Linked DNA regions of Homo sapiens: regions 1 and 2 are each reported to be linked to region 3. Evidence: microRNA targets listed by miRTarBase, many of them from high-throughput screens and not tested one by one. Region 3 holds a microRNA gene; each other region holds the end of a gene's coding sequence.
What was found. Region 3 holds the annotated microRNA hsa-miR-5195-5p (AACCCCUAAGGCAACUGGAUGG, at 2,617-2,638, shown strand). A microRNA usually pairs through its seed, bases 2 to 8, with sites in the 3' UTR of a target mRNA and lowers its output. Matches are read on the target gene's strand: a 7mer-m8 pairs with bases 2 to 8, a 7mer-A1 pairs with bases 2 to 7 and ends in A, and an 8mer does both.

Region 1 (4,189 bases), not on the chromosome of region 3:
TTAAAACTGTCCTGTAGTTTTTCTTTTCAGCAGTTACAGTTCTTAAGAATGTTTTAATGTATTCTCCTTCTGACTTGTGACTTAAACACCATTAAGGACTGAACATTTTAGTCCTATAAACAAGTTAGTTTTGTAGCCTGTGTTACTTCTCCAAGGTTTTGAAGTTGGATCTTTGCTGTACTACTTATATCCTGTGAAATTGAGTCAGGCTCATCATCTAAACAAGTTAAACCTGTTGCTGTACATTTTACTGTCATTCTAGACATAAAAAGGAGAAGAAGAAAGATAAAGACAAAGAAAGAAGTAGGGATGAAAGAGAACGATCAACAAGCAAGAAGAAGAAGAGTAAAGATAAGGAAAAGGACCGGGAAAGAAAATCAGAGAGTGATAAAGATGTAAAAGTATGTTTACAAATTGATTTATTTTTATATTTGGGGTGATGTTGGTACTTTCAGAAGTTATTTTTCTTTGGAGAAGTTTACTTTTATTATTCTCCTTGGCAAAGCAGGTTACACGGGATTATGATGAAGAGGAACAGGGGTATGACAGTGAGAAAGAGAAAAAAGAAGAGAAGAAACCAATAGAAACAGGTTCCCCTAAAACAAAGGAATGTTCTGTGGAAAAGGGAACTGGTGATTCACTAAGAGAATCCAAAGTGAATGGGGATGATCATCATGAAGAAGACATGGATATGAGTGACTGAATATTGCCTCTGAGGGAGTCCAACTGTATACCTGCATCAGTGTCATTCCTTTGTGTGATTTCTTAATGCTGTATTTGTTCATCTCAAACCTAGATGTATACAGCTCTGAGTTATAAATGGTTATAAAGCTCCTGTTACTCATATTAGTTATTTACATCAAAAAGCTTTTAGAAAATGGTACGAGGTAACCAATTCTTGTCATGGTGAAATCTGATTGAGTAACCAAGCAGTTTTACTATTCTGGTGCTGCTTCATAACAAAAATGAAAAGCTGCATGCATCTACAGCAGGCATGGATTGTTTATGTCGTATGATATCCTTTATTAAGTAAGTTCACTTATAGTATTTCTATAATTTGATTCATTGCCGTAATAGAGCCATGTAGGAAATGCACTGATTGCATGTTATTGTGGCAAGAATATCCTAAATGTCATTAAAATCCTCCAACATGATGGATCTACTTATGGTCTTGTTTGTTGACATGACAAATTAACATTCTTATAGTTACATCTGGAAATGAGCATTTGAAATAGATAATCCTTTAAGCCTTGTGGCAAAATTTTTGTGGCTTTTGTTTAACTTTGAAAGGTTATTATGCACTAACCTTTTTTGGTGGCTAATTAGGGTTTAAATACAGAAACAAGATTTCAAATAAAACTGTCTTTGGCAGTGAGTAAATAGCATATTTTGAAGTAGAGTTGTATACTTTTTCATAAGATGTTTGGGAATTTTTTTCCTGAAGTAATAATTTATTCCACATCTACATCAGTGAAAGCTATCTACCTATCCTGAGTCTATCTTAAAGGAAAAAAAGAAAAAAACCTTATCTCTTGCCCTTATTTTGAATTTTCCACTCTTTCATTAATTTGTTTTAAGCTCCGTGTTGGAAAAAAGGGGTAGTGCATTTTAAATTGACCTTCATACGCTTTTAAAATAAGACAAATCTACTTGATAATGTACCTTTATTTGATCTCAAGTTGTATAAAACCAATAAATTTGTGTTACTGCAGTAGTAATCTTATGCACACGGTGATTTCATGTTATATATGCAAAGTAGGCAACTGTTTTCTTAGTTACAGAAGTTTCAAGCTTCACTTTTGTGCAGTAGAAACAAAAGTAGGCTACAGTCTGTGCCATGTTGATGTACAGTTTCTGAAATTGTTTTACAAGACTTTGATAATAAAACCCTTAAACTTATGTTCATGTTCCTGTAAAACCGTATTTGTATTTATTTACGCTACTGAATGTATGACATTTACCTCATTCATTTTACAAATTCTTTCCCTTTCTGTCCACATATTTCAGTATAGTAAAAAGAGGAAGTCTATCACTGTAGTGATAATTGCCATCAAAATTGTCAAAAATGATTTAATTTCTATCCAAAATAGTCCTTTTCTTAGCTTAGTATCATTTTATTGCTTATTTTTTGTGTGGGAATGGGGTTGGATAAAGCAATGAACTTTAGTATAAACAAATCCCACCTATATCTAGCAAATTTATATTTTCGGTGAAATACAGATATTTGCCTTTCTGGAGTAGTATAGAAGCTGTCAATATGTATCTACTGTACAGTACTAAATAGTATTCATTTATGAAATGAGTAGTGTTTGGGTGGCTGGGGTTAAGGGAAAATGAGACTTGGAATTGTAGCTTTTATCCAAGTTTTGAGTATAAATAGGGTTTTGTTTTGTTTTTTTTAACCTAAAAACTGAAATGCCATATAGAAAAACAGCATTGTTTTTACAGTTTGTAGTAAGTAACTTTTTAAAGATTTTATCAAAAAGAATTGTCTATAGTGAGTAAAAGAAGTTCTAATAATGGTCCTAATCACTGCATTTTTAAAAAACAAAGTTCAACACAAATGACATTTGTTTTAAACTTTAGTAGATAAAAGGTGAACCATGTGACATGGGCATTTTTGTAAGTCAAAAACAAATTTCACATATGGTAAACCTAATATTCACAGTGTGTTCCCTCACTTGTAATCTCTGAATACAAATATACTAGCTTTTCTAAAGGGAATCATTTTTTTAAAAGTAGTGCCACTGACAAGATGCTACAGTGAAGATTATCCATTCTTAGGATATTTATTTTCAGTGAACATTTTCTGCACAAAGGTAGTGTTGCACTGGGACACAAGCCTTTTAACAGATAACCAGTTGAAATCAAACACTGCCTCCACACCGAGTTCTGTTGTGTATTTGATAGTAAATTGATTTAAAAATAAAAGTGGTTTTTGTTAGAAAAATGTTTTGTCCTTATTTATTTGCTTAAATCCTTTAGGAGTGAACGAGAGGTGGTAGCTATACAATGAGCTTTTTTAAATGGAAAGATAAGAGTCCAGTCATGCATTTGGTCTTTATTTCATAGAGCTGGAGATAACTGTGTTCCTTACCTTCAGTTTCCTACGGGTAAAATGGAAGTGATTGCTACCTTGCAAAGTACAGACATACCTCGGAGGTATTGTGGGTTTAGTTCCAGACTACAATAAAGCAGTTCATGAATTTTTTTGGCTTCCCAGTGCATATAAAAGTTGTTGGCTGGGCACTATGGCTCATGCCTGTAATCCCAACACTTTGGGAGGCCAAGGCAGGAGTGCTTGAGCCCAGGACCAGCCTAGGCAACATAGCAAGACACTGTCTACAAAAAAATAAATAGCCAGGTGTGGTGGTGCACACCTGTAGTTCTAGCTACTGTGGAGGTTGAGGCAGGAGGATCACTTTGAACCCAAGGAGTTGGGGCTGCAGTGAACTATGATCATGCCACTGCGCTCCAGGTTGGGTAATAGCAAGACCCCATCTGTATCTGTAAAACAGTAATTTTTAAAATGTAGCCTTTGGTGCCTGGGACATTAAATGATAGCTGCTATTTGATTATGGGGCCCTTAAAAGTTATGTAACTAATAATTTGTGTAGGGGGTAATGTTAAAAGCACAAAATAAATTGCATACCTTTTATTGAAAAGGCTGTGTTGCCCTTAACTGTTTTCATGAAGATGGATCTTAGGTAAGTTTCCTCGTGGCAATTCTATACATGGAAGACAGAAAAATGCAAATAGGCACTTGGGAAAAGGAAGGAGAGGATAAAAATTACTGTTAACCTTGGAGCTACATCTTAAAACTGAGTCAGGTTCTGGAGTGTGCATTATACAGCTTATGTCATGCAGATTACAGTATTAATACATCAAATTTATCTCTAGCAAAATTATCACTCAGTTGGGCACTAGATGAAGGGTTGGATCCATGCATGCTGTTTGTAGATTGATACACATCTTTTCAAATGGAATTGAGATTTCTTTTCCCTCAGTCTGCCTCAAAACCAGCTAATGCATTTCATCCCTGTGCTTCTATTTTTTCTAATCAAGTACATGTGGTTGTGTTTTAATTAAATATGGGTGTAATGGAATTGTTACTCATACTTTTAAAAGCATTCAGAATGTCTATTAAGGTTTTATTAGCAGAAGTAGTAATTGTACCTTTATAAATTTC
Region 2 (4,189 bases), not on the chromosome of region 3:
GCCCCAGCAGTCCGGGACCCCACTGTGACCAGGCAGATGCTCGAAGGAGTCAGTGGCTCTCTTACCCAGTGCAGATTTCCCTGGAGTTCCCTGCGGGTGACTTAGAATGGCCACCAGAGGCTTAGGATGCTGCCCCAAAGAGGGAGGGCTCCTGGAAGCAGAGTCGAGAGAGTCAGTGCCGGGTTAGCGGGAGCTGGAGGCAGAGCTGCAGCTCCAGGCCTGGTGGGCGTGGACCTGGGGTGCTGGCTGGCAGGCGTGCTCAGGGGCAGGAAGTGGGGGACTCTTCCCTGACCATCGCATCTCACCCTGGCAGATGGTGGCCGACATGCGGGAGAAGCGCTACGTGCAGGAGGGCATTGGCAGCAGCTACCTGTTCCGGGTGGACCACGACACCATCATCGATGCCACCAAGTGTGGCAACCTGGCCAGATTCATCAACCACTGCTGCACGGTGCGCCAGGGGCCAGCCGGGGCAGGAGTTGGGGGTCGGTGGGGGTGGCCACGGCTCACACGCCCTTCCATCCGCAGCCTAACTGCTACGCCAAGGTCATCACCATCGAGTCCCAGAAGAAGATCGTGATCTACTCCAAGCAGCCCATTGGCGTGGACGAGGAGATCACCTACGACTACAAGTTCCCACTGGAAGACAACAAGATCCCGTGTCTGTGTGGCACAGAGAGCTGCCGGGGCTCCCTAAACTGAGGTGGGGCAGGATGGGTGCCCACACCCCTATTTATTCCCCCTGGTGCCCTGAGCTCCCAGCACCCCCCCAGCCTTAGTGGGCTCAGCAGGGCCCACATGCCCCCATCTCCAAGCGTGGGGTTGGGGGCCCCAAGCCCAGCGAGGGAGCCTCAGTCCCTGGAGGCAGCTTCTGCCTCTCCTGTCACCCCTGCCCACCACCCCCTGATTGTTTTTCTTTGCGGAGAAGAAGCTGTAAATGTTTTGTAGCAGCCAGCAGCTGTTTCCTGTGGAAACCTGGGGTGCCGGCCTGTACAGATTCTGTCCTGGGGGGCTACACAGTCCTCTTGCTTTGTGTTAATGGGGACTTCCCCTTACGCCCTGCGTGTACCCCTCCCCAGTTTAGGGGTCTCTGGGGCAGTGGCCATGTTCTCCCCCTGGGGGGGCTCTGCACCCCCAGTCCTGGGGACTCCGTGCCTGGAACCCTGCCTCATCTGTTCCTGCCAGACCCTGAGGGTCACCCTTCCACCCTGGTGTCACTCCCCGGCTCAGCCAGGCCAGGATGGCGGGGTGGGTCCCTTTTGCTGGGCTGGACTGTACATATGTTAATAGCGCAAACCCGACGCCACATTTTTATAATTGTGATTAAACTTTATTGTACAAAAGTGTTTGGTCGGTGTATTTGGGCAGGAGCGAGGGGTTGGGGGTAGAGGGCACGGAGGGTTGTGCAAGTTGAAGAGAGGGAAAAGTGGGTACCTGAAGTGTGGGGCAGGTAAAGGGGCCTTCAGGCAAGAGCCCAGACCTGCAGAGACAGTCCGAGACTGTCTCGGACCCCCTGACAGGCTGCAGCAGCCGCACCCGCACCAGGAATACCCCACCAGTGCCCGCCAGGGTGGTGCCAAGGTCAGGCCTCCCCTTCCTACAATCACAGCTGCAGCTGGACCTCCGGCCTCCTGGGAAGCCCAGCAGGAGGGAAGGCCTGAGGTCACACTGTGGGATGAGGTCACCGCTGGCTCCACCCACAGCCCCAGACCCCTTCAGCCCACTCTGCAAGTTCGAGCTTCATCCCCACCAAGTTCTCCGCTGGACCCAGATGCCAGTGGAGCACAGAGCGGCCGCCAGGGGGCGCCTTGGGGCAAGAGTGGTGGGGGTTGTGGCTGGGCGGGTCTCTGTTCCTGGAATGGGGCAGGAGGGAGAAGGAGGAGCCAGCGGAAGGACGGTGTGCGGGCCGGCCAGCCCTGGACGAAAGAAGAGGGCCCCTCCAGGCCAGTCTGGGCACCCTGGGATAGCGGCTGCAGGTAGGCAGAGGCGCTGCCAGTGCCCAGGTGGCCTTTCCCTCCATCCGGCCCTTCCCACCTTCCTATAACCTTCCCTCCACCTCCCTCAACTCCTGGCCTCCCCACCCTTTTACTGCCTTCAAATCTCTCTCCCTAAACCCTGACCCCTTCCTGCACCCCAAGCCCGCCCCTCTCTCCGTAACTCAGCCATCAGCAGGGGCAGACGGCAGGTGGCCTGGTTGCTGCAGCTCCCAGGATCAGCTCTGCCCTCCCCGCAAACGCCAGCCTCGTCACCGCTCCAGGGCACCTCCAGCAGTAACAGGTGGTTGCAGCAGGTGGCAGCCAGCCCCTGGATGAGCCAAGGTCTCTTCCCCAGCCAGGCATGGCCGACTCTGCACAGGCCCAGAAGCTGGTGTACCTGGTCACAGGGGGCTGTGGCTTCCTGGGAGAGCACGTGGTGCGAATGCTGCTGCAGCGGGAGCCCCGGCTCGGGGAGCTGCGGGTCTTTGACCAACACCTGGGTCCCTGGCTGGAGGAGCTGAAGACAGGTTCTTGTTGGGGGAGCTTGTGGTGGAGAGGGTGTGGACGCTTCCCCAACCCTTCCCAAGCTGGGATCCCCACCCCTGCAGTGGAACAGATGATGCTGGTTTCTGTCCACATGGATGGGTCGAGTGAGTCACATTGGGAACGTGACTCCAGGGTGGAAGATGAACCCAGCCTCTGGCCTCTGGCCCCAGCTCTGACATGGCCTGTGTCCTCCAACCCCGGCCAGGGCCTGTGAGGGTGACTGCCATCCAGGGGGACGTGACCCAGGCCCATGAGGTGGCAGCAGCTGTGGCCGGAGCCCATGTGGTCATCCACACGGCTGGGCTGGTAGACGTGTTTGGCAGGGCCAGTCCCAAGACCATCCATGAGGTCAACGTGCAGGGTGAGGAGCTCTGGACACTCCTGGCCATCTTGCCTGTTTGTTCCCCACTCTGTCTTTGGCCTTGACCTCCGGTGACTCCCCTGGGACAAGTTGTCCTATTGACAGCCCTGCCCCCGCCTCCCCTGACCTGTCATGGTTTTCCCTGGACCTGGGATGGGGAGGAGGAAGATGCAGAGAGGGAAGAAGCTGCAGCTTGGATACGCCTCCTCCTCTGCCAGGTACCCGGAACGTGATCGAGGCTTGTGTGCAGACCGGAACACGGTTCCTGGTCTACACCAGCAGCATGGAAGTTGTGGGGCCTAACACCAAAGGTCACCCCTTCTACAGGTGAGTGGCAGGCCCTCTTGTCCTCTAAGAGCCCATTTCCCTCAGCATTGAGTCTTCCTTCTCCTCCCACCAGGGGCAACGAAGACACCCCATACGAAGCAGTGCACAGGCACCCCTATCCTTGCAGCAAGGCCCTGGCCGAGTGGCTGGTCCTGGAGGCCAACGGGAGGAAGGTGAGCCCAGAAAAAGGAGGCGCAGAGATGGGGCTCCTGCCCTGCACACCCCCTTACCCTGCCAGCCCAAGGAGGCCGGGGCCGAGAGCAAGCTGTCGGGTCCCAGGTCTCAGCAGTACCTGCCTTTGCCACCAGGTCCGTGGGGGGCTGCCCCTGGTGACGTGTGCCCTTCGTCCCACGGGCATCTACGGTGAAGGCCACCAGATCATGAGGGACTTCTACCGCCAGGGCCTGCGCCTGGGAGGTTGGCTCTTCCGGGCCATCCCGGCCTCTGTGGAGCATGGCCGGGTCTATGTGGGTGAGGACTGGGCTAGGCAGGGGGAGGCTGAGAATATGGCAGGAGGACTTGCTCTAGAAGGGGGCAGGACCCACATGGCCCTGGGAGAGAAGTGTGGACTCTGGCTAGAAAAATATGGTCTATACATGGGCCAAGGTAGACTGTGATTATGTCTCCACAGCCTGCAGAGAATACAGGATCCATGCAAGTTGGGACATTAAAAAGTGTATCATAGGCTACAGAGAAGATTGCAGCTATGGGAGCAGCCATTCCCCAGGAGAGGAGAGGAGAGGGACAGTGTGTACACAGCACTAAAAGGGCTGGGTTCAGTGGCTCGCATCTATAATCCCAGCACTTTAGGAGGCTGAGGCGGGAGGATGGCCTGAGCCCAGGAGTTGGAGGCTGCAGTGAGCTATGACCGCACCACTGCACTCCAGCCTGGATGACAGAGACAGACCCTGTCTCTAAAACTTTTTTTAAAGGAAGTAGCATCTACACAGGGAATAAGGTCACCTGCCACTCCATCCTG
Region 3 (4,189 bases):
TATTTGTACTGATTATGGGGCCTGAGGATGGTCTTGGGACACTCAACACAATTACATCAGAGGTGTAAATTGCTAGAAAGACCCTGACTACTGACACATGTCTATAGCATTTATAATATCAAAGGATGAGAAAGTGTAGGATAAAAGACATTCAGTGCCTGGATGGCTATAGAATCACATGGCATGAGATGATGTGTGCACTCCAATAAGGAGCAGGAAGTGAAAGTAATCCATGGAATTTAGAAACGACGGACACAGCTCCCTAGGAGTTGTTCCCTGAACAAGAACAAGTAAAAATAATGAAGAACAACCTGAGTATGCAACTCATATCTGTGATAGCTAAAATAATAGTAAAAAGATGCACATCCAGCCCTGCAGTGTGCCCTGTGAGCCAAGGCTGCTAGACTCCCATTCACTGCCAAAGGGTACAGTTGTCCAGAAACAACACACAACACACAAGAGCTACACAGATGGTAGCCCAGGGTTTGGACTGGGGAGGGGAATCCACTTGACAACTAGAACAGGGAGGATAGTGTGGAAAGTGGCATCATTTTGTGATATGAATGATATCATTAATAGATATCATCAGATCGTGAACAACATTAGCCAATGGACTAGGAGACTGACTGATGTAGCAGATTCTCTTTGGCTTCATGTGTTGCATAAGGGAGGAGCATGTTTGGGAAGATGCTGGACCCACAGCTCACAATAGACACATCACAGATGGCTCTAGCTGATCCCAACCTCAAGTAGGATGCTTCTGATGGGACAGCTTTCCTCAAGCACTGGATCCCGATCATGTAAAGTTTCTCTACCCTGAGAATGAGACTGCCCTTTCTCTCTTTAAAATGCAAAGTGGGCTCTCCAGATGAGGAGCCCAATGCTGTATATGGAAGCCATAGTGCTATGTGTTTATGTTGATACCGACGGTCATTGCTTAGCATGCATCTTATCCAGGTCCTGCTGCTGTGTGTTTCTGTTGATGCTGCTGGACATTGCTTCGCATGCACCTTACCTAGGTCATGGCCTGTGCTGTGATAAAGAGAAGTCCTTTTGCTTCTGCACCCCAGGTACAACTCCTGTGAGCAATCTGGCAAATATTTTAGAAACTGTGTAGTTTGTATTGCCTTGTCTTTTCATTTGAATCTTTTAGATGATAAGGAAATGAGAGTGGTTCACAAGATAATGGGGCAGACACAGGGGATAGTTAAGGGCCTCCTCCAAGCAATGTGGATATCATAAAATGAATGTTAAAAAATGAAAGAACTAAACAAGAAGGTGCTGGGGTTGACACAAAGGACTTAAAACAGAACTACCAGGAGTTGGGTGCAGCAATGGCAATCCCTTCAGTTCCATCAGCAATTCAGAGACCTAAACAAATATTCCCTATTTATGTTGAATTGGCAGACTGTAGAAATGTAGAAGACAAAATGACCAGAAAAAATGTGTGATTTGGCATGGGTGAAGGTCTGGCAAGTTAATCAAGTTGAGGACTGTTGAAGCCCTAGGGTGGTCCTGCCTTTGCTGGGTGCCCAGACCATAATGGCACTCATGGGAAATTGCCAGCAAGTAGAAACTAGGTGTTTTTTTTTTTTTTGTAGTTCTTATTATCAGGCATATGTGCATTTGAATTTTGTCTTCATAGCATTTCCTGGTTCTATTTCTCATTTTTTAAAACACACGTGATTTCATCTAGATTTATCACCTTCACAGGGTCACAGAGAAGGGTAGGAAGAAGGGAGGCCCTGGTTTGGGTCTTGTAGGACCATGGACAAGAGTGCGGAGGGACAACAGGGGGTTGTAAGACATTATTAAGACCTTATTCTGCCTCTCCCAAGAGGCTCAGTTCAGCCGTTTTTCTGCAGTTGCGGTTCTGGGTTATAAACCTTGTAGACTCTTCCCTTCAGGCCAGGGCGGCAACTATGCAAATTCAAGTGGGGGCCTCCCCACTTAAACCCAGGGCTCTCCTCCACAGTGAGTCTCCTTCACCACCCAGCTGGGATCTCAGTGCTTTCTTTTCTGTCCTCCTCCAGGATGGGGTCAACCGTCATCCTTTCCCTCGTCCTGGCTGTTCTCCAAGGTCAGTCCTGCCCAGGGTTTGAGGTCACAGAGAAGAATGGGCAGAAGGGAGCCCCTGATGCAAATTTTGTGTCTCCCACACAGGTGTCTTTGCCGAGGTGCAGCTGTTGCAGTCTGCAGCAGAGGTGAAAAGACCCGGGGAGTCTCTGAGGATCTCCTGTAAGACTTCTGGATACAGCTTTACCAGCTACTGGATCCACTGGGTGCGCCAGATGCCCGGGAAAGAACTGGAGTGGATGGGGAGCATCTATCCTGGGAACTCTGATACCAGATACAGCCCATCCTTCCAAGGCCACGTCACCATCTCAGCCGACAGCTCCAGCAGCACCGCCTACCTGCAGTGGAGCAGCCTGAAGGCCTCGGACGCCGCCATGTATTATTGTGTGAGAGGGACCATCTAAAACCTTCCGCGGTGCAGGTGCAGAGTGAGCTGCCAGACACACCCTCCCCAGGGGCCTCTCTATTCATCCGGGGAGGAAACACTGGCTGTTTGTGTCCTCAGGAGCAAAAACCAGAGAACAACATGGGAGCGTTCCTAACCCCTAAGGCAACTGGATGGGAGACCTGACCCATCCAGTTCTCTGAGGGGGCTCTTGTGTGTTCTACAAGGTTGTTCATGGTGTATATTACATGGTTAACATCAAAAGGCTGCCTAATAGGCACCTCTTCAATATAATAGTCTTTTAATTAGTGAAAATTTTACACAGTTCATCATTGCTTGCTTGCCTTCCTCCCTTCTGTCCGCTCTTACTCCCTCCTTCTTTTATTTTCTACTTACTTTTCCAAAATCATTTAACCCCTTTTTGTACCATTAATAAGTTATCTTGTTTTTGTTGTTGTTTTCCTTTTAACAATATGCACTGAATAATTCATCTTTGTGCCAATTCGTAAATATTTTGATATAACAAAGACTTCTGTCATAAATAGATTTCCTGTGAGTAATCTTGCAAATATTTTAGAACCTGTTTGGTTAAGAATAAATTAAAATAAATAGACAAATTTTTAAAGACATACAACCTATCAAAACTGAACCACCAAGAAATAAAAAATCTGGGCTGGGCGTGGTTGCTCATATGTGTATTCTCAGCACTTTGGGAGACCGATGCGGGTGGATCACCTCAGGTCAGGAGTTCAAGATCAGCCTGGCCAACATGGCAAAACCCCGTCTCTACTAAAAATACACAGATTAGCTGGGTGTGGTGGTGTTCACCCGCAGTCCCATAGTCCCGGCTACTCGGGAGGCTGAGGTAGGAGAATGACTTGAACCTGGGAGGCAGAGGTTGCAGAAAGCCAAAATCGAGCCACTGCACTCCAGACTGAGCAACAGAGTGAGACTCCAATTAAAAAAAATCTGAACAGACCAATGAGTAAAGAGATCGAGTCAGTGATTTTTCCAACATCTCGAATCAAAGTCCAGAACTTCATGGCTTCACTACTGAATTTTATCAAAAATTAAAAAAAACCTAGAATCTCTACTCAAATTTCCAACAAAATAAAGAGAAAGAAATATATCCAAGCTTATTTTGGAAGGCCCTATTTCCAAAGCAAGGAAAAGACACTACAAGTAAATAAAACTACAGGCCAATATCCCTGATTATCATAGTTTCAAAAACTCTCAAGAGTGATGAGATGACAAACAAAATTAAACAGCAGATTAAGAATAGAATTCACCATTATCTGTGTCTCCCATACCCAGAGAGGCTGCTGCTTGCCCTGCACAAGGATACTCTGAGCAGAAACCTACCTGGCCCAGCCCTCACCTTGCTTTATGCAGCCATCTGCCCTGGCAGCTTAACACAAAGGACAGCATCTTTTGGGAGATACATGGCCACACCCACTGCCTGAGAATCCACAGTAGCCCCTATTCCTGGGCAACATAAGCCAAGCAAAAACCCCACTGTTAATACTGTAGCTGGTGCTCTTTGGAAAGCACCATCTCCAAGCAGGAAGCCAATAAACAGTCCATCACAGTATCTCCTGGTAGACTATCACTGCACCCAGAAAGGAGAAAATGACTGTGTGATCTCAGCTATGACCAGTGCCTGCACCACTCTGGATGACCAGGAGGTCCTGAGTCTGTCCATGTGAACAGTTCATTACCGCTATAACC

Region 1: the mRNA of SRSF11 is a reported target of hsa-miR-5195-5p. Seed matches in the 3' UTR shown: 7mer-A1 at 1,595-1,601.
Region 2: miRTarBase lists SETD1A as a target of hsa-miR-5195-5p. Seed matches in the 3' UTR shown: 7mer-m8 at 1,082-1,088.

What each region holds. Positions count from the first base shown.
Region 1 is chr1:70,250,103-70,254,291 of GRCh38, forward strand. SRSF11 (serine and arginine rich splicing factor 11) reads left to right here. Exons shown (of 12, transcript NM_001350605.2): 11 at 263-401; 12 at 506-2,950. The coding sequence ends at 703. Among named protein-coding and RNA genes, the nearest start is that of SRSF11, 31 kb to the left of the region's middle. RefSeq lists a silencer at 3,821-4,021.
Region 2 is chr16:30,983,322-30,987,510 of GRCh38, forward strand. SETD1A (SET domain containing 1A, histone lysine methyltransferase) reads left to right here. Exons shown (of 19, transcript NM_014712.3): 18 at 314-451; 19 at 529-1,343. The coding sequence ends at 702. HSD3B7 (hydroxy-delta-5-steroid dehydrogenase, 3 beta- and steroid delta-isomerase 7) reads left to right here and starts at 1,886. Exons shown (of 7, transcript NM_025193.4): 1 at 1,886-1,976; 2 at 2,332-2,503; 3 at 2,728-2,883; 4 at 3,102-3,210; 5 at 3,284-3,383; 6 at 3,519-3,681. The coding sequence starts at 2,338. RefSeq lists an enhancer at 1,355-1,867.
Region 3 is chr14:106,849,392-106,853,580 of GRCh38, reverse strand. MIR5195 (microRNA 5195) reads left to right here and starts at 2,582; the gene lies at 2,582-2,696. The region is part of intron 1 of LOC124903399 (a long non-coding RNA gene); the gene reads right to left. It also overlaps IGH and the pseudogene IGHV5-78.